7 linked regions of the Homo sapiens genome follow. The protein of the gene in region 1 interacts with the protein of each later gene in a pairwise test. Each region holds a gene or a part of one and is shown in the gene's direction. Other genes may lie near its edges. The genes, in order: BIRC2, UBE2W, RFC5, HSP90B1, EAF2, PPM1K and BLK.

Region 1 (4,493 bases):
TGTCCTCCTGTAGCTCAGAGTAATTTGATCGTCTGAAGCCTTCTTCTCTCAGCTCATCAAAGTCATTCTCCATCCAGCTTTGTTCCGTTGCTGGTGAGGAACTGCGTTCCTTTGGAAGAGGAGAGGCGCTCTGCGTTTTAGAGTTTCCAGCTTTTCTGTTCTGTTTTTCCCCCATCTTTGTGGTTTTATCTATTTTTGGTCTTTGATGATGGTGATGTACAGATGGGTTTTCGGTGTGGATGTCCTTTCTGTTTGTTAGTTTTCCTTCTAACAGACAGGACCCTCAGCTGCAGGTCTGTTGGAATACCCTGCCGTGTGAGGTGTCAGTGTGCCCCTGCTGGGGGGTGCCTCCCAGTTAGGCTGCTCGGGGGTCAGGGGTCAGGGACCCACTTGAGGAGGCAGTCTGCCGGTTCTCAGATCTCCAGCTGCGTGCTGGGAGAACCACTGCTCTCTTCAAAGCTGTCAGACAGGGACACTTAAGTCTGCAGAGGTTACTGCTGTCTTTTTGTTTGTCTGTGCCCTGCCCCCAGAGGTGGAGCCTACAGAGGCAGGCAGGCCTCCTTGAGCTGTGGTGGGCTCCACCCAGTTCGAGTTCCTGGCTGCTTTGTTTACCTAATCAAGCCTGGGCAATGGCGGGCGCCCCTCCCCCAGCCTCGCTGCTGCCTTGCAGTTTGATCTCAGACTGCTGTGCTAGCAATCAGCGAGACTCCGTGGGCGTAGGACCCTCCGAGCCAGGTGTGGGATATAATCTCTTGGTTCGCCGTTTTTTAAGCCAGTCTGAAAAGCGCAATATTCGGGTGGGAGTGACCCGATTTTCCAGGTGCGTCCGTTACCCCTTTCTTTGACTCGGAAAGGGAACTCCTTGACCCCTTGGGCTTCCCAAGTGTGGCAATGCCTTGCCCTGCTTCGGTTTGCACACGGTGCGCGCACCCACTGGCCTGCGCCCACTGTCTGGCACTCCCTAGTGAGATGAACCCGGTACCTCAGATGGAAATGCAGAAATCACCCGTCTTGTGCGTCGCTCACGCTGGGAGCTGTACACCGGAGCTGTTCCTATTCGGCCATCTTGGCTCCTCCCCTCCTTCAATAAATATTTGTTGAGCATGAGCACCAGTGCCAAATACTGTGCCTAATCACAGTGGTTGCTGTCAAGGAGTATATACACTAGCTGGCGAGACTAGTGTGCAAAAGACAGGGTTAAAGGGCCAGCAGAGAGGCGAAGGTTGCATATGTATTGGAGTATTGCGTTGGAAGATGCTTTCTTTTTAAGCTTGTAAGTAAAGACAGGAATAACTTAAGAGTACCTTATTGCATGACCGTGTAGCAAAATATTTAAAGTCTGGACTTCTACATTGAAACAGATTTGTGTTTAAATTCTAGCTCCAGGCTGGGCGCGGTGGCTCATGCCTGTAATCCCAGCACTTTGGGAGGCCAAGACGGGCGGATCACAAGGTCAGGAAATTGAGACCATCCTGGCTAACACGATGAAACCCCGTCTTGACTAAAAATACAAAAAATTAGCCGGGCATGGTGGCGGATGCCTGTAGTCCCAGCTATTCGGGAGGCTGAGGCAGGAGAATGGCGTGAACCCGGGAGGCAGAGCTTGCAGTGAGCCGAGATCGTGCCCCTGCACTCCAGCCTGGGTGACAGAGCCAGACTCCATCTCAAAAAAAAAAAAAAAAAAATTCCAGTTCTATCAGTTACTAGCTTGGCTATTTATTCAACCAGACATCGGCTTTCTCATCTGTAAAATGGGGATAATAATAGTATGACTCCCATAGGGTTGCTGTAGGAATTAAATGAGATATTGCAAATAAAACACTTTAACACAGCTCCTAGCACGTCAATTTTTTTTTTTTTTTAAGCATTAGGTAGATTGACTTGGGAAGTGGGAGGGACTTGGTGAAAGAAAGGGCCTAAGAAAAGTCAATTTAAGGATTGTTAAGTAGTAATGAAATCCAGCTAAGGTTATATGAAATCACTGTCACCTTAGATTTATGACTTTCTCATACTTTGTATGGGTTGGAAAATAGTATTGAATTACAGATTTGGCAGTGTTAATAGGGGAAAGGGCAAGTAAGGAATACGGAAGATGAGTTAAGGGTGCTAATATAGAGAACTTCATTGAAATACCTGACTGCTACCTAGATTAGAATAGGAGGTTTGAAGCAAAGCCAGGAGATAGCTCTTGTGCAAGTAGAATTGGGAATGACATGGAGATCTTGAAAAGGTGAAGAACAAATTGGTTAGCAGTGAGAGGAATTATTTAGGTAGAAGAAAAAGTTGTCACAGAATGGAATTTTATAGTTTTGAGATTAATAGAGCAGTTCACTTCTAGAGAGATGTAAAAGGGGAAAGAAGATAGGCTTCTGTTTTTATAATTTATTTCTCATTAAACTGGTACTTTGTAGAGATGTACTTTTTAAATTTTTTTGAAAGTCTGAAAATAGACAAATTTTATAATGATTCAGATACCAAAAGAAGGAACTACCATATTCCATAAATATAAATTAACTGTGGAGTTTTATGTGATGCGATATTAAAGGAAAAACATTGGCTTTTTAAAAAAAGGTCAGGCTTGATTCTTAGGTAGTTTTTTTTAATTGCTATAAACATAGACATTTATAAAATAATAATGGTAGTTAACTATGTACCACATATTGTGCCAGATGCTTTACATGTATTATTCAATCCTTACAACTTTGAGGAAGGTACCGTTATGTATATTTTACAGATGAGGAAACTGAGGTGTATGGGGAAGGATGAGGACACATAGCTAGTGAGTGGGCCTAGCCAACACTGGAACCTAGGTCTGTTTTGACTTGGCAACTCAAACCCTACAATACTACAATACCACGTCTTAAGTATGGGGTGTTGAAAAGAACACTGGTCTAGGATGCCTGGTTCTGCAGCTTATTCTTTCTTGTGATCTTAGGCCACTCATTCTTTTCTGAGTCTTTTTTCTCCCTATGTAAAAATGAGAGGCAGTAATACTCGCCTTGTTTAATTGACAGGATCACTGTATCAAATGAGACAAATTACTATGAAAGTGCTTACAAAAGTAAAATGATATAATGGAAATACAAGAGTATTATTATATATGGTGGGGGGAAATTTTTACTGTCTTCTACAAATCTCTTGCAACAAAATAAAGTAAAAGCGGAGTTCTAGGACATGTAAATATATAGACTTAAAAATTAAACAGAGACTTCCTCTGGAAGTTTTCCAAACAACAAACTTACAAATGCAAACAAGTTACTTTGTTCTTTTTTGAACTTTATTTAGTGCCTAAATTGTTTGTAGGGTTGGTTATTAGTGACTATATGAGTATAGTTAAAGGAGTTTAAAATCTAATGGATTTCTTTTTCTTTTTTTAATGAAGATGATTTGTCATTAATTCGGAAGAACAGAATGGCTCTCTTTCAACAATTGACATGTGTGCTTCCTATCCTGGATAATCTTTTAAAGGCCAATGTAATTAATAAACAGGAACATGATATTATTAAACAAAAAACACAGATACCTTTACAAGCGAGAGAACTGATTGATACCATTTTGGTTAAAGGAAATGCTGCGGCCAACATCTTCAAAAACTGTCTAAAAGAAATTGACTCTACATTGTATAAGAACTTATTTGGTGAGTTTGTTGGGAAAATTATTTTAGAAATTCTTAGGACTGGCCAGATGCGGTGGCTCAGTTTTGTATTTAGTAGAGTAATGGTTTTTATGTTTTCTTTCCTCAGTGGATAAGAATATGAAGTATATTCCAACAGAAGATGTTTCAGGTAAAACAAAGATTTAAAACCAACATGAACTATTACCCTTTTTTTTTAATGAAGTGGAAACAATTTCACTAAAGTTATTTTTTGTTATTAGGTCTGTCACTGGAAGAACAATTGAGGAGGTTGCAAGAAGAACGAACTTGTAAAGTGTGTATGGACAAAGAAGTTTCTGTTGTATTTATTCCTTGTGGTCATCTGGTAGTATGCCAGGAATGTGCCCCTTCTCTAAGAAAATGCCCTATTTGCAGGGGTATAATCAAGGGTACTGTTCGTACATTTCTCTCTTAAAGAAAAATAGTCTATATTTTAACCTGCATAAAAAGGTCTTTAAAATATTGTTGAACACTTGAAGCCATCTAAAGTAAAAAGGGAATTATGAGTTTTTCAATTAGTAACATTCATGTTCTAGTCTGCTTTGGTACTAATAATCTTGTTTCTGAAAAGATGGTATCATATATTTAATCTTAATCTGTTTATTTACAAGGGAAGATTTATGTTTGGTGAACTATATTAGTATGTATGTGTACCTAAGGGAGTAGTGTCACTGCTTGTTATGCATCATTTCAGGAGTTACTGGATTTGTTGTTCTTTCAGAAAGCTTTGAATACTAAATTATAGTGTAGAAAAGAACTGGAAACCAGGAACTCTGGAGTTCATCAGAGTTATGGTGCCGAATTGTCTTTGGTGCTTTTCACTTGTGTTTTAAAATAA
Region 2 (4,493 bases), on another chromosome or scaffold:
GAAGTGGGGGGAAAAAAAACAAAAAGAAAAAAAATCACTTAATTAAACTTAAAATGTAGGCTGGGCACGGTGGCTTACACCTGTAATCCCAGCACTTTAGAAGGCCTAGGCAGGTGAATCACCTGCGGTCAGGAGTTCGAGACCAGCTGGCCAACATGGTGAAACCCTGTCTCTACTAAAAATACAAAAATTAACTGGGTGTGATGGTATATGCCTGTAATCCCAGCTACTCAGGAGACTGAGGTAGGAGAATTGCTTGAACCCAGGAGGTTGCAGTGAGCCAAGATCATGCCACTACACTACAGCCTGGGTGACAGAGCGAGACTCCATCTCAAGAAAATAATAATGAAATAAATTTAAAATATACATATAAATTTAGGATACCCTTTAAATGTATCTGAATCCTCTGTACACTTCTGACACTCTTGTCATTCCTGCTTAAGGGTTAGTATAGCATAACATTTATGTATTTCTACATTTTAAAACCCCTCTTAAATCCCTATGAGGGTTTTCCTTTTGCATTCTGTTTAAAGGAGAAACAGCTTTGCCCTAGAGGTTAGGGAGTTATTTGTGTTTTACAGTTTTCTTTCCTTTTCTCCAAATTGAACTGATTGTCATTTTTATTAAATTAGTATTTGGAGAACTTTTAAGATAATAGTTCATTTTTTAATGATAGGTTATTTAGAATCTGAAGCACTCTAAGCCACAGCATGTGAAATAATAGGTTAAATTGGTTTTGTTTTGTTTTTTTACTCATTTGTTGCTTATTGCTGTTATATTTTCTCCTCTCACCCACCCCCAACACACACACACGTTTTAAACTTTTATGTGTAGGGCAAAGCAGTTTGTGGGTACAAGGCCTTCTATGTTCCTGTTACGCTTAAAGACTATAGAAAGGTGAGACGGTAACAACAGTATTTAATAAGAAAGTTATTAAGAGATTAATGTCAGCGATATCTGTACATAGTCTTGCATGTGCCTCATGATTATTAGATTTTATTTACATTTAAATATAATGATTTATTATTAAAAACTAGAGAATGACTATATTCTGTGTACTTCCTTCATCTTCCTCTAACCCTCACCATTCCCCTTACATTCTAGTTGTCTGCTACTAGTGTTTCTTGTACACTTAGTATAAGACTAATCATTCCATTTAAAGCACTAATAAACTATGTTTTTACTGTAATAGTTGTATAATATTTAACCAAGATGATAATACAGAAATCAAGATTTCCATGAAATACGATAAAATTCAAAAAACATTTACTAGGTACCTAGTATGTGCTACTTTTACTGTGCTAAGTGATAAGTTACAAAGATGAAGAGGAAATTTGCCTTGGCATTGAGACGATCTGGCATTAGAGAGATCTAAGCTCCAAAGAAACCTTAAAAAGTGTTTTAGGCCAGGTGCAGTGGCTCACGCCTGTAATCCTACTACTTTGGGAGGCCGAGAAGGGTGGAGCACTTGAGGCCAGGAGTTCAAGAGCAGCCTAGGCAAAATGGCTAAACCCTGTTTACTAAAAATAGAAAAATTAGCTGGGCGTGGTGGCGCATGCCTGTAGTCCCAGCTACTTGGGAGGTTGATGCACAAGACTTGCTTAAACCCAGAGGCTGAAGTTGCAGTAAGCTGATATCACGCCACTGCACTCCAACCTGGGTAATAGAGCAAGACTCTGTCTCAAAAAAGAAAAAAGAAAAGTATTTTAAATACCCATCTACACGTTTTATTATTATTAAAACGGGTAAATTTTATTCCGTAGTGGACATGGTTCTATGGGCTTTACTTTGTTAATTCTACTACTATTAAATATTTTACTTTAGGTGTTTGGGACTTTAGTCATAATTCTTCTATTCCAATTTCCTTTTACACAGTCAGGAGTGGTTCCATAAACTGAAGGTATTTAAATCCAGTATGTCATTAGATTGTAGTGGATTAAAGATAATTTCTGATATTGAGATCACAGGACTTTCAGTAAATTCCACTTTATTTGCATGCCTTTGTAATATATTTACATTGTTCAAACTTTTCAGTTTGTATCCCATTCCTAAAACAATTTCGTAAGACTTCTTTTGTATAGTTTCTTTTCCAAGAACTGTATCTCCCTGATCATTTGTCAGGGAGATAAATGATTTAAGCAAATAGAATTGAGTATTTCTTTTTTCTAAATATGTATTTTTTGAAGACTTTTCTGATGATTCTTGGGTTCTAATCAACATATACATAAAATGAGTTTGTGAAAGTATCTGCTCTAGTAGTACCAATTCCATATGAACATAGATTTAACTTTGTAGAATCATCCCTTCCTTGAAGTAGTCAGGCATCTAATTTCATAATATTCATTTTTTAGGAATTTTCTCAAATTGTGTCCACAGATTGACTTGGAATACCTAAATGTCTTGACTGTCTTATGCTCTAATGTTTCTTTTTGTTAAATGAAATTACTAATATTAACACATAAGAGCATTGTGAGGCTCAACTAGACTGATAGTTACATATATGAGTTTTAGAAGTGCCAAATGGACTAACTGTTTTCCTTCCTGCTATCACAGAGTCCTACTCACGATTGCTTTCTGGTTAGACTTTCCTTAAATGATGTCATACCAAATTCACTTATTTTCATTAGCCTCAGGTAGAGGAGAGGATTCCCTTAATCTCTCATTTTCATTAGCTTAGCTAAGCAGATTTAAGTCTGAAAATAAATCCTGCATATACACTATACAATATTTAATGATAGGAAAATAATCAAGTTATTGGAATGATTCCGAAAGGCATAAAGGAGACTAAAGGATAAGGATATCTATCATAGTATCTATAAACTTTAATATAGCTTTAATATAAATTTGATGTTTCCAAGTCTTTGTAGAGGGTAACATTTTCTTTTGTCTAGGCAGTATGCAACAAATTTCAGGAAAAGTCTCTTCCATAATATATCTTCAGTGTTGTTGGCATCACTTTATCTGCGGTAGCTCCCTTGCGGAGCTGCCATATATTTCTCATATATTGTTCTAGTCAGGGCATATGTTCAGCAGAAAGGCCAATTATAGTAGAAATGCCAATATATATTTTTCCCATTTTTTCTCTTAAATATTGTTTAGAAACTGAATCTTCTGGTCTATCTTTGATGGTATTCTATTACAGTAAAAACAGTTCTTTGTGGAGGTTTGTACATTGCTATACTTCTCCCAACAAATCTAGTTTAGTAGACTTTTCTGTTTTGTTTTGAGACGAAGTCTGGTTCTGTCACGCAGGCTGGAGTGCAGTGGCGCAATCTCGGCTCATTGCAAGCTCCGCCTCCCAGTCTCACGCCATTCTCCTGCCTCAGCCTCCTGAGTTAGCTGGGACTACAGGCGCCCGCCAACACGCCCGGCTAATTTTTTTTTTTTTTTTTTTTGTATTTTTAGCAGACAGGGTTTCACCGTGTTAGCCAGGATGGTCTCGATCTCCTGGCCTCGTGATCCACCCGCCTCGGCCTCCCAAAGTGCTGGGATTACAGGCGTGAGCCACCGCGCCTGGCCCTTTGTTTTATTATTTATTTATTTTTTGAGATGGAGTCTCACTCTGTCACCCAAGCTGGAGTGCAGTGGCACCATCTCGGCTCACTGCAACCTCCACCTTCTGGGTTCAAGCAATTCTCCTGCTTCAGCCTTCCAAGTACCTGAGATTACAGATGCCCACCACTGCGCCCGGCTATGTTTAAATTATTATGTGAATTTGACTTTTCTCATCAGTCCTTTTTCATTCCCTTTATAATTTATTTAATTTTTTGTTTGTTTGTTTTGAGACGAGAGTCTCGCTCTGTTGTCAGGCTGGAGTGCAATGTCACAATCTTGGCTCACTGCAACCTCTGCCTCCCGGGTTCAATCAATTCTCCTGCCTCAGCCTCCCAAGTAGCTGGGATTACAGGCACGCACCACCATGCCCAGCTAATTTTTTTGTATTTTTAGTAGAGACTGGGTTTCACCATGTTGGCCAGGCTAGAACCTAACACAGACCACACTCAAACACGCTTATTATTCCTTTTTTAAATTTAGGTGTTAAGCATACACATTTCCTGGAATACATTTATAGTTTTTATTCTTTTAGATATACTATTCATGTTTATATTGTTTTTTATGCATTCTGTTAATTTTTCTTAAGCTTTTATTAAAACTGTCACCCTCTCAGTTTTTCTGTTTTTCAACCTATTTAAATTATTTTTTGTTTCAGAGACGACCACCGGATAATTCTTTTTATGTGCGAACATGTAACAAGAATCCAAAGAAAACAAAATGGTGGTATCATGGTAAGCAGTTTGAATTTGTAATAACTTTTTAGCATTTTGATATGAAGATTATATATATTTGCTATAAGACTTGGGAAAAAGAAGAGAAGCTATAATTGGTGTTATATTTATGTTATATGAAGAAAATTCTTTAAAATATTCTAATATATTTAATGGATGAATTACCCTAGTTTTTTTTGTTTTTTTTTTTTTTTTTGAGATGGAGTT
Region 3 (4,493 bases), on another chromosome or scaffold:
GTCACAAACATGAGCATAAAATTGCAACACAGTGGAGTAAAAATAGCATTACGGAGAATCATTTAAGTTCACAGATGTTGCCAGCACCCAGAAAGGTGCCTGTAACACAGTAGGCACTCAATAAATACTTGTTGACTGGCTGCGCTATTGAGTGAATTCCAGTTGTTCCACGAAAGTAGATATGAGGCCCCTACATCAAGTTGTATCTGCCTCTGATTTGGACATTGAATTGGGTTGAAGAGCTTTCAGCCCAACTCAGGAGCCCAGGGTGAATGAGGCAGCTCCCAAAGACTGATGGTGCCCTTCTTCCTTCCTGATCCTCAGTTCAGAAGTTTATCAATGAAGACCGACTGCCACACTTGCTTCTCTACGGTCCCCCAGGGACAGGCAAGACATCTACCATCCTAGCCTGTGCGAAACAGCTATATAAAGACAAAGAATTTGGCTCCATGGTCTTGGAGGTAAATAAGATTGTTCTTACTCTACAAATAACTTAAGAGACTCCAGTCTCTTAATTTCAGTTCTGCTGGTTTTATTTTACTTTAAAAGTAAGTTGCCCCACGGACAGTTAGGAAAGAAGTAAATTTGAATATTTTAATTCCCTTTTTCCTATAATGGTCATTTTGGTCTGGATTAGCGTTGGTCAGCTAGAGGGCAGTTGTAGGGTTTGGCACCTTTTTCTTTGCTCTTGCCAACTTCTCCCCAAACCTTACTTTATGGTGACTTGGTTGCTGCCTGTCTGCCATGGCCCCTCTAGATCAATTCTCCACGTTTCTCCACCATATTCCTGCCTGGAAGGCTGAGCCCTACTGACTATAAGCTCACTTACCCTCTGGCTCCTGGTTGGGTTTGGCCAATAGGGGCCTTGGCAGGGGTGGGGGAAGGAAGTGAGTGATGCCTGGGCCTTCCCTGGGGGCTGACACAGGCTGGCAGCATGGCCCACCTGTAGGGTACATCTCACAGGTGGTACCTTTCCTGCAGCCCTCTCCAGGTGCCTACAGCCACTCCCTTCACTAAGCCCTTCAGGCTCAAGGGTGACAGGTATTGCATAGCCCCATGGTTTTCCTATATCACACCTTTAAAAAGATCTTGTTTAATTCTCTTCAAATTGCTGCATTTGAGTATGCCATCTGTATATTGCTGGGACCTTGACTAATATACTTAGATTCAAAAATCTGAGTATTGTCTATTGCAAGAAAAGTTTAACTTACTTTTTAGACGCAGGTCTCAGAACTTTGCTGCTACTAATGTCCTTATTTCAGTTTATTAAGAACTTGGTAACTTAGGATTGTGGTAGCTGAAATTTGTATCATTCTGCTCATACCAGAGGTGCTGTTCAGTGTAACCATACCAATTAATTATTTCTCCAATTTATGTCAGTCATTGTCCTCAAAGGGTGGGGGTAATATAGCCATCTTTATTAATTTAGTGAATTTTGTGTAAAACTGATTTTTTATTTTATGATGATCTCTTAGCCATCATTAGACATAGAGAGCTAGCCTGCTGAGCTGGACTGATGAGGAAATACACTAACACCAAGAACTCACAGATAGCACAGCAACATGGTTTTTGTTTTGTCTTCTGTCTTCCACATTTAGCTGAATGCTTCAGATGACCGAGGAATAGACATCATTCGAGGACCGATCCTGAGCTTTGCTAGCACAAGGACAATATTTAAGTAAGAATTATTTGTGTAATTTCGCTCCCTTGATTTTGATTAGTAAGATGATATGGGTTAATTTTTTAATCCTCTCCTTAGCCAGTTTATATGGGTTGAAAAAAAAAGTGACTTTGTCCAAAGCAACCATGGAAAAGAGATAAACGAGAGGGATGGTAGTAAGAAGCGTTATAATGCAACTGTTAAAATAAAATGTTATCTACGCTTGTATTAGCAAGTTTGTTTTTTTTTTCTTTTTTTTTTGGAGACAGGGTCGCCCTGTATCGTACAGGCTGGAGTGCAGTAGCATGATCTCGGCTCACTGCAACCTCCACCTCCTGGGTTCAAGCGATCTTCCAGCCTCAGCCTCCTAAGTAGCTGGGACTACAGTCGTGAGCCATCACGCCCAACTAATTTTTGTATTTTTTAGTAGACATGGGGTTTTGCCATGTTGCCTAGGCTGGTCTCGAACTCCTGAGCTCAAGCAATCTGCCCGCCGCAGCCTCCCAAACTGCTGGGATTACATACGTGAGCCCAGCCTGCATTACCAAGTTCTTTAGGGAGCATTAACTTCATTTTTAGTTCCTGAGAACTGGCTAGATTACCCTAAGACTGGATGAGCTAGTTTGAATTTAAAAATAAATTGAGATCAGGAAGGACAACTAGGATGGTGGCTAAAAAAAAAAAAAGAAAGAAAGAAAAAGGGTGAGGGCCGGGCGCAGTGGCTCACACCTGTAATCCTAGGACTTTGGGAGGCCTAGGCAGGTGGATCACCTGAGATCAAGGGTTCAAGACCAGCATGGCCAACATAGTGAAACCTCGTCTCTACTAAAAATACAAAAATTATCTGGGCATGGTGGTGGGCGCCTGTAATCCCAGCCACTCAGGAGGCTGAGGCAGGAGAATCGCTTGAACCCAGGAGGCAGAGGTTGCAGCGAGCCAAGATCGCGGCACTGCACTCCAGCCTGGGCAACAGAGCAAAAACTTAGTCTCAAAAAAAGCAAAAGGGTGAGGGACTCAGGCATGAGTGAGGGAGACGGGAAAAGCAGTAGCATGGTAGGGTGCCATGTGGAGGAAAGTGAAGATGCCAGAGGACACAGCGCACAGAAGTAGAGAAGTCTCCTCCATTCCCACCAAGGGTTGAAGGAGTGATGCGGCATTTCCTCTCTGAGTGACCAAAGATGTCTGCCTTGGCCAAAGTTCTAGAAGAAATTGTCTTTCTGAGACAGGGCCCGATGGCACAATGGGAAGATATAGGTTTGAGCCCAGATGTTGAGATGAGATTGAAGAAATCTTTAGACAGCACCATTTGTTTTTCTAGGAAAGGCTTTAAGCTAGTGATCTTGGATGAAGCAGACGCCATGACTCAGGACGCCCAGAATGCCTTGAGAAGAGGTAAGCAGAGGCACTGTGGAGCGTTTGGGCTGGTGTGCACACTGGAAGGAGAATTAGGAACTTTGTGTTTGTTGCTGTTGTCATTGTTTTTTTAGGCGGGGGGGAGTTTTTTTTTCTTTTTTTGAGTCAGAGTCTTGCTCTGTCACCCAGGTTGGAGTGCAGTGGCGCAATCTTGGCTCACTGCAGCCTCTGCCTCCTGGGTTCAAGCGATTCTCTGACCTCAGCCTCTTGAGTAGCTGGGATTACAGGCATGCACCACCACACCCGGCTGATTTTTATATTTTTAGTAGAGATGGGGTTTCACCATGTTGGCCAGGCTGGTCTCGACCTCCTGACCTTGGGTGATCCGCCCGCCTCGGCTTCCCAAAGTGCTGGGATTACAGGAGAATTAGGAACTTTAAGCTTCCCAAAGTGCTGGGATTACAGGAGAATTAGGATGTGAGATATGGCTTGGCTTGTTTTCAGTTTTCATCTTCTGGCCCAGAGAAATCTCTATGCCTTTCTCTGTGTCTCCCATCTAATGACACAGGCTAGATACCTCTGTAGCGGGACTTCCCCTTCAGCAGCCTAGGGACTAAGCCCTGCGGGGACTTTTAAGTCTGGCCAGTCACTGGTGTTCAACCTCCTTTGACACTGGGTTCAATTTCAGAGTTGGGAATTCATATCTTTCCGTGGGATGGGGTGTGGAAAATCTTTCATCCTTAAGCTATCAGATAGTCCTTCTGCTAATAGTACCCTCTCCTTTCTACTAATGGTACCCTTTGAACCACAATGGCTAGGAAAAGCATATCTGAAGTTGAGGTGCTCAGAGAGCTGATATTACTTCACTGCTTGCCAAGTGAATGATTTGGCAGCGGGAGGGACAGCACCCTGCGATTTGTCTGTCTTCAGGGGCCTAGCGCAGTTCTTTTCTCTTAAAGGACACTTGTCATCTCTCATTAAGATTCCAAGTGAATCAGCTTTGAGAGAAGAACGATCTTTAGGAGTTTGTGGCGAGGGAGTAGATGGCAGCACATGTTAAGAGAAGGATGGGGGAAGGGGGAGGAGGAGGAGGGGGGAGGAGGGGAGGAAGAGGAGGGGGTGAGGAGGAGGAGGGGGAGGAGAAGGCGGAGGAGGAGGGTAGGGGGAGGTGGAGGAGGAGAGGTGGGGGAGGAGGAGGAGGAGGAGGACAGCGAGAATATCTTCTGGTCCTAGAAGCTTGGCAGCCTTTCTTCGGCATCTTGTTCTGCCGAGTGACTGTCATTCTGGGCAGATCCCCATGTGAGAACATTGGGTACCTACAGAATGGAACCGGTGTCATAAGCAACTCTTTGTTCGGGTTATTGCTCCCTTGAGTGCTCTAAGGCCTCCAGACAGTCTCCATGGAAAAGTCTGCAAAAAGCCGCCCTCCCTGCCCATAGAAGGTGAAGTGTCATCAACCTGCCAAATATAATTTTATGTA
Region 4 (3,500 bases), on another chromosome or scaffold:
ATTATAATTAAAGGCTCAGCCTGAAAACAGAGCTCTCCTTTACAACTCATTGGCCATTTATAACTCATTGGCCAAAACTAGTCACATGGCCTTAGCCATTCTTAAATGGAAAGTAGAGTACTCCTAAGTTTCTGGAAGGCAGACAGCCAGGAATATTGAGTGAAGAATATTAATGATCCATCACAGATTCCAAATAGAGGAATCATTCAAGTTGTTTTGTATTCTAGTAAAGAAATAGGCAAGACATAAAATTTTATTTTTCTTGAATTGTTTTCCTTCAAAGGTAACTTGTTTTATTTAGGTCAGCCTCTAACCTTTGACATTTAGGCCAGTCTGCCCATTTGATATTAATACTTTCTCAAATACATAAATTACTTTAAGATGTACACTTTCAGAAAAGGCCATAAAAAACTATGTGGAGGAAAATATCTCAGTTTAGTTTTCTGTATTGGAATTGATGGGACCCAAAGCTGGTTAGTTCCTCAATATTTGTTTGGCATAATGTAAATATTAAATACAACTATCTGGTTCTTGTCTTGCATTTAGTGTGATAAGGAGAAGAACCTGCTGCATGTCACAGACACCGGTGTAGGAATGACCAGAGAAGAGTTGGTTAAAAACCTTGGTACCATAGCCAAATCTGGGACAAGCGAGTTTTTAAACAAAATGACTGAAGCACAGGAAGATGGCCAGTCAACTTCTGAATTGATTGGCCAGTTTGGTGTCGGTTTCTATTCCGCCTTCCTTGTAGCAGATAAGGTTATTGTCACTTCAAAACACAACAACGATACCCAGCACATCTGGGAGTCTGACTCCAATGAATTTTCTGTAATTGCTGACCCAAGAGGAAACACTCTAGGACGGGGAACGACAATTACGTGAGTATGACCAATTCCTTATAAGAATTAATAGTCATGGTGAGGATCTTGACTCTCCAGTTCTATTCTCTGAGCAAATGACTTATTCTGGGCCTTAATTTTCCTGCCTTATAAAATGAGGAAACAGAACTGTTGTCACTTGAAGAAATGTTTGAGGACCTGCAAAGGGCCAGGCACAAAGGTTTGTGATTGCTGTTGTACATGGAGGGTATAAAGTAGGAAATAGCAGCAGCTTCCCCAAGGGAGAAGGCTTCTTGGGTACCCACAGAGGAGGCACTGCTTGGTCAGTTTCCCAGGTTAGAAGAGTAATTTGTCTGTGGAGCATCCTGAATAAAGGCATGGAGGCATAGCATGCTCACTAGATGAACAGAGTTCTTTTCGGTGGCAGTTATGGATAGAATGTGATGAACTTTTATTTATTTATTTATTTTGAGACGGAGTCTCACTCTTGTTGCCCAGGCTGGAGTGCAATGGCACAATCTTGGCTCACCACAACCTCCGCTTCCTGGGTTCAAGCAATTCTCCTGCCTCAGCCTCCCAAGTAGCTGGGATTACAGGCATGTGCCACCACGCCCAGCTAATTTTGTATTTTTAGTAGAGATGGGGTGTCTCCATGTTGGCCAGGCTGGTCTCGAACTCCCGACCTCACGTGATCCACCCACCTCGGCCTCCCAAAGTGCTGGGATTACAAGCATGAGCTACCGTGCCCAGCCAGAATGTGATGAACTTTTTAAGATTCTCAAGGTGGTGTGGAGGATGTGAGGAGTGGACAAGGGGAGACTCTTTGGGGGAAATATTCCTCTTGAAAATATTCAAGATGAGTGGTAGCAACCAGGGCTGGGGCTGGCTTGTAGAGATAAAGGGCTTAAAGAAAGTTCATGAAAGTTGTGAAAGCTGTGGAATAAAATACGTCATTTAAGGATAGTTACAAGTTTTTAAATTTGAATTAAGATCCCTCTTAAGCCAGTAACTGTTGTTTGTATGGGTGAGACAGAGCCAGTGCCCTACAGTAGCTCTCGTTGCTTATAGCACTGTGACGTAGACAGGGCAGCTTTTTGCCTTTTTAAAATTTTACCATCTTGGAGATGAGGAAATTCTATTTCAGAGGTCAGTTGGCTTGCCAACTCCTGCTAAGTGAGTAACAGAATGTGCCCACAGCTTCAATTTTTTTTTCTTAATTCAGTTTTAAGTTTTCTTAACATTAAGGGAAAGAAGCACATACTTATCATTGTGACCAACTTTCTTCATCCTAGAAAGTAACATTTCCTGTTTTTACTGCAGCAGATGTTCTTTTAATGAAGACTAATTAGATGACTGCATTTTAGTACTTTTTTAACTTGTGTTCCCAATTTACCTTCCCCTGCCTTCGTCACTAACATTGATGTCTCCAGGTTTCATTTGGAGGCATCACTAAGAGTTATGCCCCAGTGCCCTCTCTTTTTAAGCACTGGGCTAGATGTTGGAGAAGGATAGGGCAATCATTCCCAAGGAAAGATAGAAAGTGATGTCCCAAGAGATGTTAATGTCAGGTTGCTAAGAAGCAGGTGAAATTATCTGGATATAAGCTCCATGAAGGCAAACATTTTGTTGGAAGCTCCATTCCCAAAGCTTAACACTTAATTGGCAGCCATTTGTATGAATAAGTGAGGTTAAACAGGACAGTTCCATGCAGGGAACGATGGCTGCTAACACCTATCCAGGACCTAGTTTCCATGACCATGCATATCTTTTTAAAAATTTCCTTTGCCCACTTCTTAAATGTTAACATACATTTTCTCCAAGTTAAGTTTCAGCCCTTTTCTCATTGTCCATGTGATCTTTATGTAGTCTTATCCACTGCCACGGCCTCAGGTTCCATCTCTAGTTCTCAAATTTATATTCTTAGCCTAGATCAGGAGTTAGCAAACTTTTTCTTAAAAGAGCCAGCTAGTAGAAAAAAAGATAAAAGAAAACAACAAGAAAGAAAGAGCCAGCTAGTAAATATTTTTAGCTTGTGAGCTATATGGTCTGTCACATGTCCCAACTCTGTTTAGCTTGAAAGCAGGCATAGACAATACATAAGGATGTGTCCCAGCCAAGTGTGGTGGCTCATCCCTATAATCCCAGCACCTCGGGAGGCTGAGGTGGGAGGATCACTTGAACCCAGGAGTTTGAGGTCAGCCTGGACAACATAATGGGATCCCATCTCCACAAAAATAAAAAATAAAAAATTAGCTTGGCACAGTGGTGCATGCCTGTAGTCCCAGCTACTCAGGAGGCTGAGGTAGGAGGATTGCTTGAGCCTGGCAGGTCAAGGCTGCAGTGAGCCATCATCACGCCTGGGTGACAGAGGTCCAAAAAAAAAAAAAAAAAAAAAAGTGTCCCAATAAAATTTCTAATGGGTGCCAGCTGTACAGCTATAGCTTGCCAGCCCCTTGTCTAGGTCTCACTACTGGGCTCTGTGTTCATGTGTTTAATTGCCTTTTAAATGCTTCTACCTAAGATATCTAACCAGCAGCTTCTACTTGCATCCAAAACTGAACTCTTAATCCCCAAATCACTAGAACATGTGCTCTGAGACCAGGGGCCTAGTCACTCACTAGGCTTTGTCATATCATGGCTACTTATTGGCCAGGTACCACT
Region 5 (4,493 bases), on another chromosome or scaffold:
TAAGTAAACATAGCATGCCAAAATATGTGTAATGCAACTGAAGAAGTTCTAAGAGGGAAATTTATGGCACTAAATGCTTACATTAGAAGTGAGGAAAGTTATCATATTAATTAATTTAAGTCCCTTTTTTAGGAAACTAGGAAAAGAAAAGCAGATTAAACCCAAAGCAAGCAAAAAGAGACAAATAATGAAAATAAGAAGTGATATCAATGAAATTGAAAACAGTAGAGAAAATTAATGAAACAAAAAGGCAGTCATCGGAGAACACTGTTGATAAACTTCTAGTAAGATTGATAAAAATGAAAAGACAGAAGGCACAAATTACGAATATCAGGAATGTAAAGTACAACTTCTATCTATAATCAGGAAAGTAATGAATTTACTATAGATCCAGTAGCCATTAAAAGTATTATAAAGAAATGGTAGGCTGGGTGTGGTGGTTCACACCTGTAATCCCAACACTTTCGGAGGCCAAGGCAAGAGGGTTGCTTGAGCCCGGGAGTTTGAGACCAGCCTAGGCAATACAGAGTCTCTACAAAAAAAAAAATTTTTTTTTTAGATTACTCAGGCAGTCAGGCGTGGTGGTGTGCACCTGAGTAGTCCCAGCTACTCAGGAGGCTGAGGTGAGTGGATTGCTTGAGCCCAAGAGGTTGAGGCTGCAGTGAGCCATAATTGTGCCACTGCACTCCAGCCTGGGTGACAGAGTAAGACCCTATCTAAAAAGAAGAGAAAAGAAATATGATAGCTTTGTGCTCATAAATTTGACAGTTTAGAGGAAATGGACTAGTTCCTCAAAAGCTAAAAACTGCCAAAACTCAACTAAGGCGAAGTAAGCAACTTGAATAGTGCTATCAATATTAAATAAATTAAATTAGTAATTAAAAAGCACCCACCCCAAAAATAGCCAGACCAAGAAGTCTACCAAACATTTAAAGAGAATTAACACCAACATTACACAATCTCTTCTGGAAAAAGGAAAAGGAAGGAATATTTCTAAGCTCATTTATGAGGCCAGTATTACCCCTAATACCCAAACCAGATAAAGACAGTACAAGAAAAGGAAAACTATGAACCAATATCTCTGATGAACTTAAACTCAAAAATTATCAATGAAATATTAGCAAATTGAATCCAACATTGTATAACAATAATTATGCAACATGAACAAGACAACATTGCTATTCTCACATTTTATTTAGGAGTATGGATGAGGGTGAGAGGGAGGGTAGGGAAGATACAAGCAGTAAACAAATAAGTATCCAAATGAATTTCAGAAATAAGTGTCTTGAAGAGAATTAAACTAAGCAATGGGGGTTGGAGAATGGAGAAGAAGGAAACTTTTGAGAAGGTTACACTTAAACCGATTCAAGAAGGAGCCAGCCTTTCAGAGATCTAGAATCTTCTCAAGAGACACCATTAATGAAATGAAAAGCCTAGCTACAGACTTGGGGGAACCTGGAAAAAATATTCACAAATGCCAAAAGTGTGACAAAGGGCTCATAGCCAGAAGAATTAGCTATAAAGAACTCTTACAAATCAGTAAGAAAAAGACAAACAAATATAAAAATGGACAAAAGATTTGAACAGGCTTTTCAAAAAAGATATTCAAATGGCCAGTAAGCATATAAAAAAACACTGCTTCATATTATCACATCAAAGAAATGAAAATTAAAACTACAAGAAGATACCATTGTACACCCTTCAGACTCACTATACCAAGTGTGTGTGTGCCCTAGTGAGGGAAGATATGAAGCATCTGTGACTCATACCTTGCTGGTTGGAGTGTAAAATCAGTTTGAAAACTGGGAGTTTTTAATGAAATTAAACCTATGCCTATTGTGACTTGGCAATTTCTCTCTTTCTACCTAAGAGAAATGTGTATATAAGTTCAAAAAGACTTGTAAAGGGATTTTCATAACAACTTTATTAATAATATCAAAAACTGAAAACAACCCAAATATCCATAAGTAGAAAATGGGTAACTAACTTGTGGTATATTTATATAATATAATATAATATAATATCATAGCAGTAGAGAAGAATAGGCTACAGATTAATTCAATAACATGAGTAAATATAAAAACATTATGTTGAAAGAAGGCAGACCAAAAAGTACATGCTGAGTGAATCTATTTGTATGAAGTTCAAGAATAGACGAATAGACAAAAATCTTTGGTAATAAAAGTCAAAATGGTGATTAGTGACTGGAAAAGAGCATAGGAGAATATTCATGGGAATGGAAATATTCTATATATTGATCTCAGTGGTAGATATACAGGTTTTATACATGCTAAAATTTATCTAGCTGTACATTTTACTTTATGGAAATTATGTATTAAACAAACAAACAAAAGATCTGGGTGAAGAATATACCAGGCAGAGGAAACAGCTAGTACGAAGAACATAGCCTGGAAATGGATTTAATGTGGTCAAATAATAGAAAGCCAGTGTGTCTATAATAGGGAGAATGAGGAAGTGGGCTAAAAATTACCAGTTAACTTAATGTAGCAGTGTACTAAGATGATATCAAATGTCAATGTGTTAACTGAGTGTATTATTCACTTAGCATTTTTTGGTTTAAAAAATTTTGTTCAACTATTTGACATTTGTATCATATGGGAAAATATTGACTTAAAAGTCAGTAGATTTGCCTCCACTCATAAATAACTGACAGCTTTTGACATTTCTGGATCTTCATTCCCTCATTTATAAAATTATGAAGTTGTTCTAAATGGTAGCTGAAGACCTTCCCAACTATAATTTTTTTGTGTATCTAGAACTTGAAAAATGCTAAACAAAAGAAGACATCATTATTATTCTTTTTATCTACAGAAATATTTATAGCCAAAGTTATAATGGGAACTGGCTCTTCAAAAATACTTAGAATATTTTAAATCCTTATTAAGGGAGCAGGGGGGAAACCTATAGATGCTTCATCAAAATGTTCTCTAGGAAAACCAGGAAAAGAATGAAGTTCATCTGTTACATTATCACATTATATTATATGTATTTAAAGGAACAAAAAATAATCAGAAGACAGTTTCTGCCAAAATAGATTTTAATTTTTATAGTTTTTCACAGTATTTACTTTATATTTGAGTTACCTGTATACTTAAGTACAATGGTTTAAATAAATGTGGAGTTTAGATTTAGACCTTGTCTATCCCTTTTAGTTTCTGTAATCCAATCATTGAAGTATGGCTTGATGGTAGAAGAGTTTTGTTTTTTAATAAAATGCTTCAAGTACTGTAAATGTATGTTTGATTTTAGTTTCAACAGTTTCTTAAAAACTAATACATTCAATTTTTATTATATTTATTTAGCATTTTTTATTTAACCTATCTATTCATTTCTGTCTTATTTTCAGAACTGAAGGCAGAAGCTAGTCTAATGGACCAGATGAGTAGTTGTGATAGTTCATCAGATTCCAAAAGTTCATCATCTTCAAGTAGTGAGGATAGTTCTAGTGACTCAGAAGATGAAGATTGCAAATCCTCTACTTCTGATACAGGGAATTGTGTCTCAGGACATCCTACCATGACACAGTACAGGATTCCTGATATAGATGCCAGTCATAATAGATTTCGAGACAACAGTGGCCTTCTGATGAATACTTTAAGTAAGTATACATAAACACAGGCAATTGGAAAAGTAAGAATTTATAGTGGAGCCATATTGATTGTGACCTAATATTTGGATAAAGAAAAAGATTCCTATTTTATGCATTTGATACTATTAATAATTACATTTTTATTGAATTATGGTTTTCTTTTGAATCTGTGACATAATGCCTTCTTGGTTTTTCTCCCATCTCTCTAGATAATCTTTCCTCTCACTCCTTTTCAAGTTTATATGATCCTCTGCTCAGTCATTAAAGTTGGAGTTTCTCAAGGCTTACTTTTGGGTTCTTTTTTTCTTTTCATTCTACAATTTCTCCCTAAATAACTTCCTCCATGTTTCTGTTGCAGTCAATACTTATGTGTAGGTAACTTGCAAATTTATATCTCTGATTCAAACCTCTAGGCTTTAGACACATGTTTAACATCATCTCCCATCATCTCATCACCTTCAAATTTACTTTGTCCAAAACCAACTCATAATCAATCTTTGGCTCACTGTGTTACCTCTTAGTGAAGGTAGCATACATCTAATTATGCAAATCATAAGTCTAATTATTTTCAATGGCTGAAGTTCTTCCTCTTTACAGTGTAGCCACTCCTTCATCAAGTCCTATTTGTTTTGCCTCCTCTATATTTCTCAAAGTCATCTGCTTCTCTGCATCTCCACCACTATCACAGTAGTTCAACCTATTATTTCTTGCCTTACCTACTACAATGACCTAACTGGTTCACCCCTTTATGTAGTCAAGCCCATTTTTGATCCATTATGTACACTGTAGCCATATTGATTTTTTTCACAATTCTAATACAATTTGTCATCTCTTCTGCTTTATACTTTTTAATAGCTTGTAATTTCTTTTAATATAGAGGCAA
Region 6 (4,493 bases), on another chromosome or scaffold:
TAGAAATGCAGAGTGACTCCACCCCATAGCCACTGGGTCAGAACATGCATTTTAACAAGTGATTGCAGGTTCAAGTTTAAGAGATACATGTTCTGTGTATGTGCACACTGTTAAATTTTTATAGAATTTAAATGCTGTGAATGCGGTAGGAAAATCGATTCATTTTTGATCCACTGTTCTTAGAAGCAGGCTACTGGATGCCTACCCAATATATAACATAAATATATGTATTTTCTGTCAAATCCTTTATGAGCTTCATTTTTGGTAATATTTGATGACATATCAGTTATATTCAAAATTTCTGATGGTCTCTCTCTCTCTGTCTCTCTCCCTCTCCTCCTCTGCCCCTCTCTCCCTCTGTCCCCTGTGACTTGCATCATTTTTCTTGAAGACATTCCATTATTGTTCCATTGACCTTTCCCTCATCACTGAGTCCTTTGGAGCTGAGTTATGTCAACAGCTGCCTTAATTACTTTGGTCAGAAGTGGTGGGAACCAGGTGAGAAGGAGAGTGCTGCTAAGCTCCCGCCTGCTGCAGGACGACAGGCGGGTGACACCCACGTGCCACAGCTCCACTTCAGAGCCTAGGTGTTCTCGGTTTGACCCAGATGGTAGTGGGAGTCCAGCTACCTGGGACAATTTTGGGATCTGGGATAACCGCATTGATGAGCCAATTCTGCTGCCACCCAGCATTAAGTATGGCAAGCCAATTCCCAAAATCAGCTTGGAAAATGTGGGGTGCGCCTCACAGATTGGCAAACGGAAAGAGAATGAAGATCGGTTTGACTTCGCTCAGCTGACAGATGAGGTCCTGTACTTTGCAGTGTATGATGGACACGGTGGACCTGCAGCAGCTGATTTCTGTCATACCCACATGGAGAAATGTATTATGTATGTACAATGACTTTCACTCCTGACTTTGCAGTTCCTATACTTCCTACTTAAACTTTCACCCTTTGGCTGAGGCTTCCAGCGTAAACATAGTTACTTGAGTGGTTGCATGCTGCTGCTTCACGAATGAGCAGTAGTTTAAGTGTGCCATTTATTACTTATGGTTATCACAATTTCAGAAATGCATGTTTTAACAACTCCCCTGGGGAAAGCATTAACCAAAATCTATAGCACTTAATTTGTGATCATTTTAAGTGAAGTGGCATAATGTACATGAGATAACCTATGAGAAGCATTTACTCCCATCAGTGTAGGACAGATAAGTGCTTCAGTAAATGGTAATTACTCTTTCAAGTGGTGTGAATAGCTTTGAATACCTGACTTGTTGAAAATAGCTTTGGATGATTGGCATTAGTGTGGAAAAATGCATTTAATGCAGGCATTTTGGAGCTCTTCCGTTTATTTACTTCAACTAGTATTAATGCATTTTTGAGGATCACATTACTGCTAAAATTGAAAGAGGGAGAACATGTGATGGAGTTACGACCATGTGACTATTTTTGACTTCCCAGTGACCATTTCTTGACTTCCTGTGTATACCGCATTCCACGAAAGAACTCACAATGGGAAGGAACTCTCGACCTCTCAGGGTTGTGGTAGTGAGGATCAATTCTTCAAGGACAAGGACTTGGACTTTCATTGTTGTGCCCTTAAAAGCTTATCACAGTGCCTGATACTTTGTGGATTCTCAATAGGTATTCCTTAGCCAGTAGGTCTTCAGCATTTGACAGGAAAATCCTGAGGCCCGTTGTGTGGAATGACTGCTAGCTAGAGTAACAGTGAGGAGAAAAACCTATTGTAAAATGATTGTTTAAGGCTCTTTTTTTCCTCCCCACAAAGGGATTTGCTTCCTAAGGAGAAGAACTTGGAAACTCTGTTGACCTTGGCTTTTCTAGAAATAGATAAAGCCTTTTCGAGTCATGCCCGCCTGTCTGCTGATGGTATGTAAAACTATCACATTCCTTGGATCCTAGGGAGTACATGGGGTGGGGGAGGAGTAAAAAGGAAACACTTTAAGTCCTTTGGGGGAGGGGATTTTAATGGACAATTGTTTGTAAGGATTTATGTAGAAATGAGTTTATATGAAGAATCACATTAAATGCTGTTGGGAACTCCAATTAATGTTAATACCTCACTTTTAAATGAAATATATTGGAGAATTTTTCAGAAAGAGAAGCCCCGAAACAGTTCTGATGTTGTACTTTAGTTTTTAAAAGATTTTAAAAATGTTTAATCTGTTTGCTTATTTTATGGACAAAATGTCCATACTATGAGTTTTGTTTTGGGTTTTTGGTTTTTTTTTTAGATGGATCTGGTGACCAAGTGCTGAAATACACTACAGGGTAATCACATCTAGCGAGGACAGTCATTGTCCAACAAGAAAAAAATTGCAAATAGGTCCTAAATAGAAAAAGACAATGGTTAATATGCACTAATTTGTATAACTAGAAGGAAAATATTTTTCTGTCACTTCTTAAAAAGCTCAATCTTGCAGCTTTTCTCTGGTAACTAGTGATATTTTCAGCATAAGGTCATGCTAGCTGAATTTAAAATTTTGTGTACTGTATGTCCTTAAATTTTGAAAGTGAAATGTTTCTGGTTTTGACTAAATTTATCAAAACCATTTCACGAAAATTCAGCAAACGTTTTCTAGTTAGCTAGTCCCAAATCTTTTGCTGTTAAAGTTAACCCTGAAAATTTCTGTACCAGCCAAATGAATGTGTGCATGTAACCTTGTAAATGATTTGAAAATGAATCATGCAATAATCTTGATCTGTATTTGGTTCATCCTTTTCTTAAAAAAAAGAAAGAAACCAAGTGCACCACAGAAATGTCATTTGCACAGTCTTCAGTTGGAATACATAAGGATAGAGATTGTTTGCATTTCACAGCGAAGGAACTGAAGATTAGAGTGGTAAAGGTCAGTTCAGAGTTAGGGCTGGGATTTTCCTGACCACCAGCATTATCTCTCTTCTCTCATGAGGAGAGGAGAAGGTAACTCTGCGATGGCTCTATTTACCATCTTGAGATTTTTTCCTGAGCTTTTTTTGAGAACCTTACTATCACACTCCTCAGGAAAGCATTACAGTCCACTCTCTTCAGGGATATGTTTTCCAGTTTGTAGATCATTTAGGCCCATTTTCTTTTCTTTCATTCCTTTGGAATTTTTCTTTTTCCTTTCAACTGGACCCTTACCTTTAAGAAGACAGAAGCTGAAAGAGGTAAACTTTATGCATAAGACTTAGCTCTTGTTCCAAATAGTTAAAACACATGAAGGAAAAGAGGAAATGAAATATTTTCTTATGGTTTTATTTTTATTACTTCCTGAATTTTGGTATGCTCTTATTTCATAGTAACTGAGTTGGCTGTGCATCTGGCTATGTCTCACACCACAATGTTTGTTGACTGTAGTGTCGGTGGTGTGCCCCAGCTGTTCTGTAAATAGCTGCAGCTTACTGGGCAAGGTTTTTGGATGAGAATGTCCAAATTTATCCCAGGCATGTGACCACCAACCAAAAACATTGGCCTTCTCAATGCCATCAGCCTCTTTTAAAAGTATCTAGTCAATGTAGATGCTTAAACCAATCGGTGATTGACTTGATGTAAAATATGACAGGACTCCTTTTATTATTGAATGAAGTATAACTCAACAGAATTTTGAACTTAAAGAATTTAATTAACTTGCCTATCTTAAAAGAAACTTTCTAAAGATACCTTTGTCACAAAAACATTAAACAGTTGTATAAAGAAATTAATCACAAAAATGTAATTCATATGCTAACTTCAGCAGCACATACACTAAAATTGGAATGATACAGAGATCAGCATGGTCCTTGTGCAAGGATGGCACACAAATGCATGAAGAGTTCCATATTTTTTATTCTTACTAAAATCAATTCATTTGTAATAAAGAAATTAAAATGCATTATTTAATTTAATTCCTCTATCATATGCTTTGAAGTAATGATCCCAGAACATTCTTAAGATATTTTAAAATGTATTTTTCATATAATGGTAATTTGTTTGAAAGTATAATGGAGCAAGACAAGATGATGCTCTTAGTGTGTACTAAAAGAAAAGGTCTATTATAATATTGTTATTAAATCTTATTTTGTTATTAAATTTGTTATTTGTTATTAAAATCTTATTTTGTATATATTCTTATCGGTCTGTGTTTTTTAAAAATTAGTGTTTTGAGAACATTTAAAAATTTTATTCTTGATAAGTTGCCAGAGCCTTCAAAGATGGCAAAAATTGTCTTGATATTTAGGGCCTATTTTATCAAATACATTAAAGCCACTAAAGATAGAATGCCATATGTTGTGTAACTGTTCAGTTTATGGATTTTTTAAAATGTCATTTTAAATTTCAAAGTTATTATTTAAGTTTAAAACTTTAGTTTTTAGCAAGAACTGAAGCAGTATCAGTATTATAAGAGTGGATAATATTCTTTTCGGCCTATGTATATAGATAGGACCAGTGCCAGTGAAACAAAATTTTGTAGTAAGTGCAGTTTACCCTCTCCAGTTTCTTTCATCTTTT
Region 7 (3,349 bases), on another chromosome or scaffold:
GGCTCAAGCGTAATGTCATTTCTATGAAGGTTTCCCTGGACAAGAAACTGCCAGAGAGCCCTTAGCTCAGGTGTTCCCGGAAGCACTGTTCTTGCTCAGCAGATCTGGGCAGCTTCTTCTTGAAAGCAGATCTGGGCCCTACTCAACATTTTTTAAAATATATTTCTGGTACTGTTCAATAAATATTAGTTATCAGAACGAGTACTGTTAGATGCTGCCCAGATATATTTAGTACTCAGTTTTATATTCCCCACAGTCCCATATTAGTAAATGAGTATTGATTGCATGGTGTAGCAAGGGGATGGATGGATGCATGGATGGGTGGATGCGTGGGTGGGTGGGTGGGTGGGTGGGTGGGTGGATGGATGGATGCATGGATGGATGGATGGATGGATGGATGGATGGATGCATGCATGGATGGATGAATGGGTGGATGGATGGATGGGTGGGTGGGTGGGTGGATGGATGGATGGATCCATGGATGGATGGATACATGGAAGGATGCATAGATGGATGGATGGATGGATACATGGATGGATGCATGGATGTGTTGATGGATGGATGGGTGGGTGGATGGATGGATGCATGGATGGATGGATGCATGGATAGATGGATGGATTCATAGATAAACCAACAAAATGCAAGCATAAGGAGAAGTGGAATCAATTCTAGTGCTGGCTTCTTGAAGTCGCATGTCTGAAGAGGTAAATGGGGTCTCTGCTTTCTGCCTCAGTTTCTTCGTCCATTGATTGGGTGAATAAAGCCTTAGTTTCCTCAGCTAAAAGGTGCCAAGTAGCACCAGCTGCTATCCCTGGCCCAGGCTGGTGATCAGGGGAGGAGAGACAAGTCTCTTCTTCTTCACAGCCTCTGTCCACCTGGATCTGCCAGTGCTCCCTGGGTGCCCCCACGGGGCAGGCGCTGGGTGAGGTTCTTGGTCACAAATCAACCTCGTCTAATGCTTGCCTCAACCCCCTGCCCTGGAGACCACATCCCTCATGTTCCATGTCAGGACTGTGGCCCCTCGGGGAGGTTAAGCAGCTTGCTAGAGGTCAGCGACTTCCCGAGGGCCTCCAGCTCCAGGAGCTGTGCTTCCAGCCAGCCAGTGAGAGCTGCCTGTCCTTGCCTCCTGCTCCCCCTCCCCCTCCTTCCTTACCATTTCTTCTCTTCTCCCTCCCTCTCCTTTTCTCCTGCCTGTGTTCTTCTATCTTCCATCTCTGCAGACCCTTGGACACAGCTGTGTGGAGCGAGAACGAGGAGGGGGAGGGGCACAGGTAGCCCCTGTGTCTCTGATGCCCACGTTGCTGCGTTGCTGTTCTGGGCTTCTAGGAGAGGAGTTTATTCGGCTGAGGAGCAACACAGTCACCTTTCTACTCCATCCAAGAAACAGCTCCTTCCCCAGCAGCCCACAGGGGCTGTGCGGGGGACACAGTGTGGGCTCGGTCTTGGCGTGGAGGCCCCCAGGCTGTCCTTCACCATGTGCCTGTTCCCTCAGATTGCTGAAGGGATGGCATACATTGAGCGCATGAATTCCATCCACCGCGACCTGCGGGCGGCCAACATCCTGGTGTCTGAGGCCTTGTGCTGCAAAATTGCTGATTTTGGCTTGGCTCGAATCATCGACAGTGAATACACGGCCCAAGAGGGTAAGCACAGCCCCTAACCACAAGGGAAACCTAGGGCCTTATCTTTCCCAGCTCCTCAAAGCCGCCTTTAACTTCTCCCAGCACAGCCCTGAGGGAAGACACCTGAGGGCTATACGGTTTCTACAGCTCTAGATCAGCATTTCCTTCATTTACCCAAATGTGTTCAGCAGAATGGTAGTGCCCTGAGACCTCCCATGGAGGAACAGCTTTAGGATAAGGTAGGTTTGGAGAAACAGCAGTCCACCCTACTCCCTGTCTTGGAGATTCCCAGTGCACATCAACATATTAAAGGCACTGAGAAGTCCTGCAGCAAAGAAACAGTTTATGTTTGCCTCACCTAGTGCCTCCCAAACTAATTTGAGCTCCAAATACTATTTTTTTTTTTTTTGAGATGGAGTCTCTGTCACCCAGGCTGGAGTGCAGTGGCACAATCTTGGCTCACTGCAACCTCCGCCTCCTGGGTTCAAGCAATTCTTCTGCCTCAGCCTCCCAAGTAGTTGGGATTACAGGCGTGTGCCACTACACCTGGCTAATTTTTGTATGTTTAGTAGAGATGGGGTTTCACCATGTTGGCCAGGCTGGTCTCGAACTCCTGAATTTAGGTGATCTGCCTGCCTTGACCTCCCAAAGCGCTGGGATGACAGGTGTAAGCCATGCCCAAATACTATTTTTATATAGTCCCTATTAACCTTCCATGGAATTAGGCTTTCACAGAGCACACTGTGGGAAACACAGCTCTCATGTGCGATCAGCAAACCAACCTGTATTAGGGTGTCCACGGAGCACTGTTTTACTCTGTGCATATAACTGAGGTGGAAATCTACGTCACAAGAGAATCTGAAGGGGTCACATATATTTATCAAGCTAGCAAGCAGTGTCTGCTGAGCCTATGAGTCAGATGACAAGCAGACAGGATATGGCTTGTTCTCTCGGGAACTTCAGGCTGGCTGGGGAGACCGAGAAATGGAGGCCAGGGGAGGCTGTGAAGTGCCAAGCCCTGAGGTCTGCTCCAAATGCTGGCCGGGGCTGCAGCCATTGAGGTGCTTCACAGGGCAGCCGGATGTGAGTTCTTCCTCATAGCGGCCCTCGGAGGTACAAGTGTCACCATTTCCATTTTGCAGGAAGGGACTAACGGAGGCGCCCGCAGGTTTAAATGGCTTGCCCAGGCCATGTCTTTTAAATTAAACAAGGCCCCTGTAAGGTGAAACAGGCCCCTTCCATCCCAGGTGGAAACGTGGTGGCTGCCCATTGAGGCCATCGCTCTCTTTTTAAAGAACCAAAGTGGGTGACTGTGTGGTATTGGTGTCCATATCGTCTTTCTGTGCTGCTGATGTCGTGTCTGCACTCACCTGGTCATGTGTCCTGGTGTGCGGTAGTGGCTCCCCCGCCATGCCTGGCCGCCCCGCCCTGTGAGGCCCCGCAGTGGGGGCTTGATGGAAGGACAGCAGGAGCAGGGGTAGGGGTGAGGATGGAGGGTAGGGGCCACCGGCCGTGGCCTCCCAAAGCTTGCATGGCTTTTCCCACAGGGGCCAAGTTCCCCATCAAGTGGACAGCCCCGGAAGCCATCCACTTCGGGGTCTTCACCATCAAAGCAGACGTGTGGTCGTTTGGAGTCCTCCTGATGGAAGTTGTCACTTATGGGCGGGTGCCATACCCAGGTAGGTGGCTCACCCCGCAGCTCGCGGCTCCCTGCTTTCCCGGCCGGC

What was found.
Region 2: the proteins of BIRC2 (region 1) and UBE2W interact in a two-hybrid assay, tested with the Homo sapiens proteins (one large-scale study listed by BioGRID and IntAct).
Region 3: the proteins of BIRC2 (region 1) and RFC5 interact in binary tests that used the Homo sapiens proteins (3 or more experiments, as listed by UniProt).
Region 4: the proteins of BIRC2 (region 1) and HSP90B1 come close enough for resonance energy transfer, tested with the Homo sapiens proteins (2 studies listed by BioGRID).
Region 5: the proteins of BIRC2 (region 1) and EAF2 interact in binary tests that used the Homo sapiens proteins (3 or more experiments, as listed by UniProt).
Region 6: the proteins of BIRC2 (region 1) and PPM1K interact in binary tests that used the Homo sapiens proteins (3 or more experiments, as listed by UniProt).
Region 7: the proteins of BIRC2 (region 1) and BLK interact in binary tests that used the Homo sapiens proteins (3 or more experiments, as listed by UniProt).

What each region holds. Positions count from the first base shown.
Region 1 is NC_000011.10:102,374,114-102,378,606, forward strand, and holds part of BIRC2 (baculoviral IAP repeat-containing protein 2), read left to right. Parts: intron 1-3,382; coding exon 3,383-3,637; intron 3,638-3,743; coding exon 3,744-3,785; intron 3,786-3,876; coding exon 3,877-4,070; 3' UTR 4,071-4,493. UniProt on the Homo sapiens protein: Multi-functional protein which regulates not only caspases and apoptosis, but also modulates inflammatory signaling and immunity, mitogenic kinase signaling, and cell proliferation, as well as cell invasion and metastasis.
Region 2 is NC_000008.11:73,805,444-73,809,936, reverse strand, and holds part of UBE2W (ubiquitin-conjugating enzyme E2 W), read left to right. Parts: intron 1-4,210; coding exon 4,211-4,286; intron 4,287-4,493. UniProt on the Homo sapiens protein: Accepts ubiquitin from the E1 complex and catalyzes its covalent attachment to other proteins.
Region 3 is NC_000012.12:118,019,308-118,023,800, forward strand, and holds part of RFC5 (replication factor C subunit 5), read left to right. Parts: intron 1-324; coding exon 325-461; intron 462-1,598; coding exon 1,599-1,678; intron 1,679-2,978; coding exon 2,979-3,052; intron 3,053-4,493. UniProt on the Homo sapiens protein: Subunit of the replication factor C (RFC) complex which acts during elongation of primed DNA templates by DNA polymerases delta and epsilon, and is necessary for ATP-dependent loading of proliferating cell nuclear antigen (PCNA) onto primed DNA.
Region 4 is NC_000012.12:103,933,410-103,936,909, forward strand, and holds part of HSP90B1 (endoplasmin precursor), read left to right. Parts: intron 1-546; coding exon 547-878; intron 879-3,500.
Region 5 is NC_000003.12:121,869,170-121,873,662, forward strand, and holds part of EAF2 (ELL-associated factor 2), read left to right. Parts: intron 1-3,367; coding exon 3,368-3,619; intron 3,620-3,819; coding exon of another isoform or gene 3,820-3,875; exon of another isoform or gene 3,876-3,897; intron 3,898-4,493. UniProt on the Homo sapiens protein: Acts as a transcriptional transactivator of TCEA1 elongation activity. Acts as a transcriptional transactivator of ELL and ELL2 elongation activities. Potent inducer of apoptosis in prostatic and non-prostatic cell lines.
Region 6 is NC_000004.12:88,274,541-88,279,033, reverse strand, and holds part of PPM1K (protein phosphatase Mn(2+)-dependent 1K), read left to right. Parts: intron 1-391; 5' UTR 392-450; coding exon 451-890; intron 891-1,790; coding exon 1,791-1,891; intron 1,892-2,256; coding exon of another isoform or gene 2,257-2,297; exon of another isoform or gene 2,298-4,107; intron 4,108-4,493. UniProt on the Homo sapiens protein: Serine/threonine-protein phosphatase component of macronutrients metabolism.
Region 7 is NC_000008.11:11,559,810-11,563,158, forward strand, and holds part of BLK (tyrosine-protein kinase Blk), read left to right. Parts: intron 1-1,492; coding exon 1,493-1,643; intron 1,644-3,169; coding exon 3,170-3,301; intron 3,302-3,349. UniProt on the Homo sapiens protein: Non-receptor tyrosine kinase involved in B-lymphocyte development, differentiation and signaling. B-cell receptor (BCR) signaling requires a tight regulation of several protein tyrosine kinases and phosphatases, and associated coreceptors.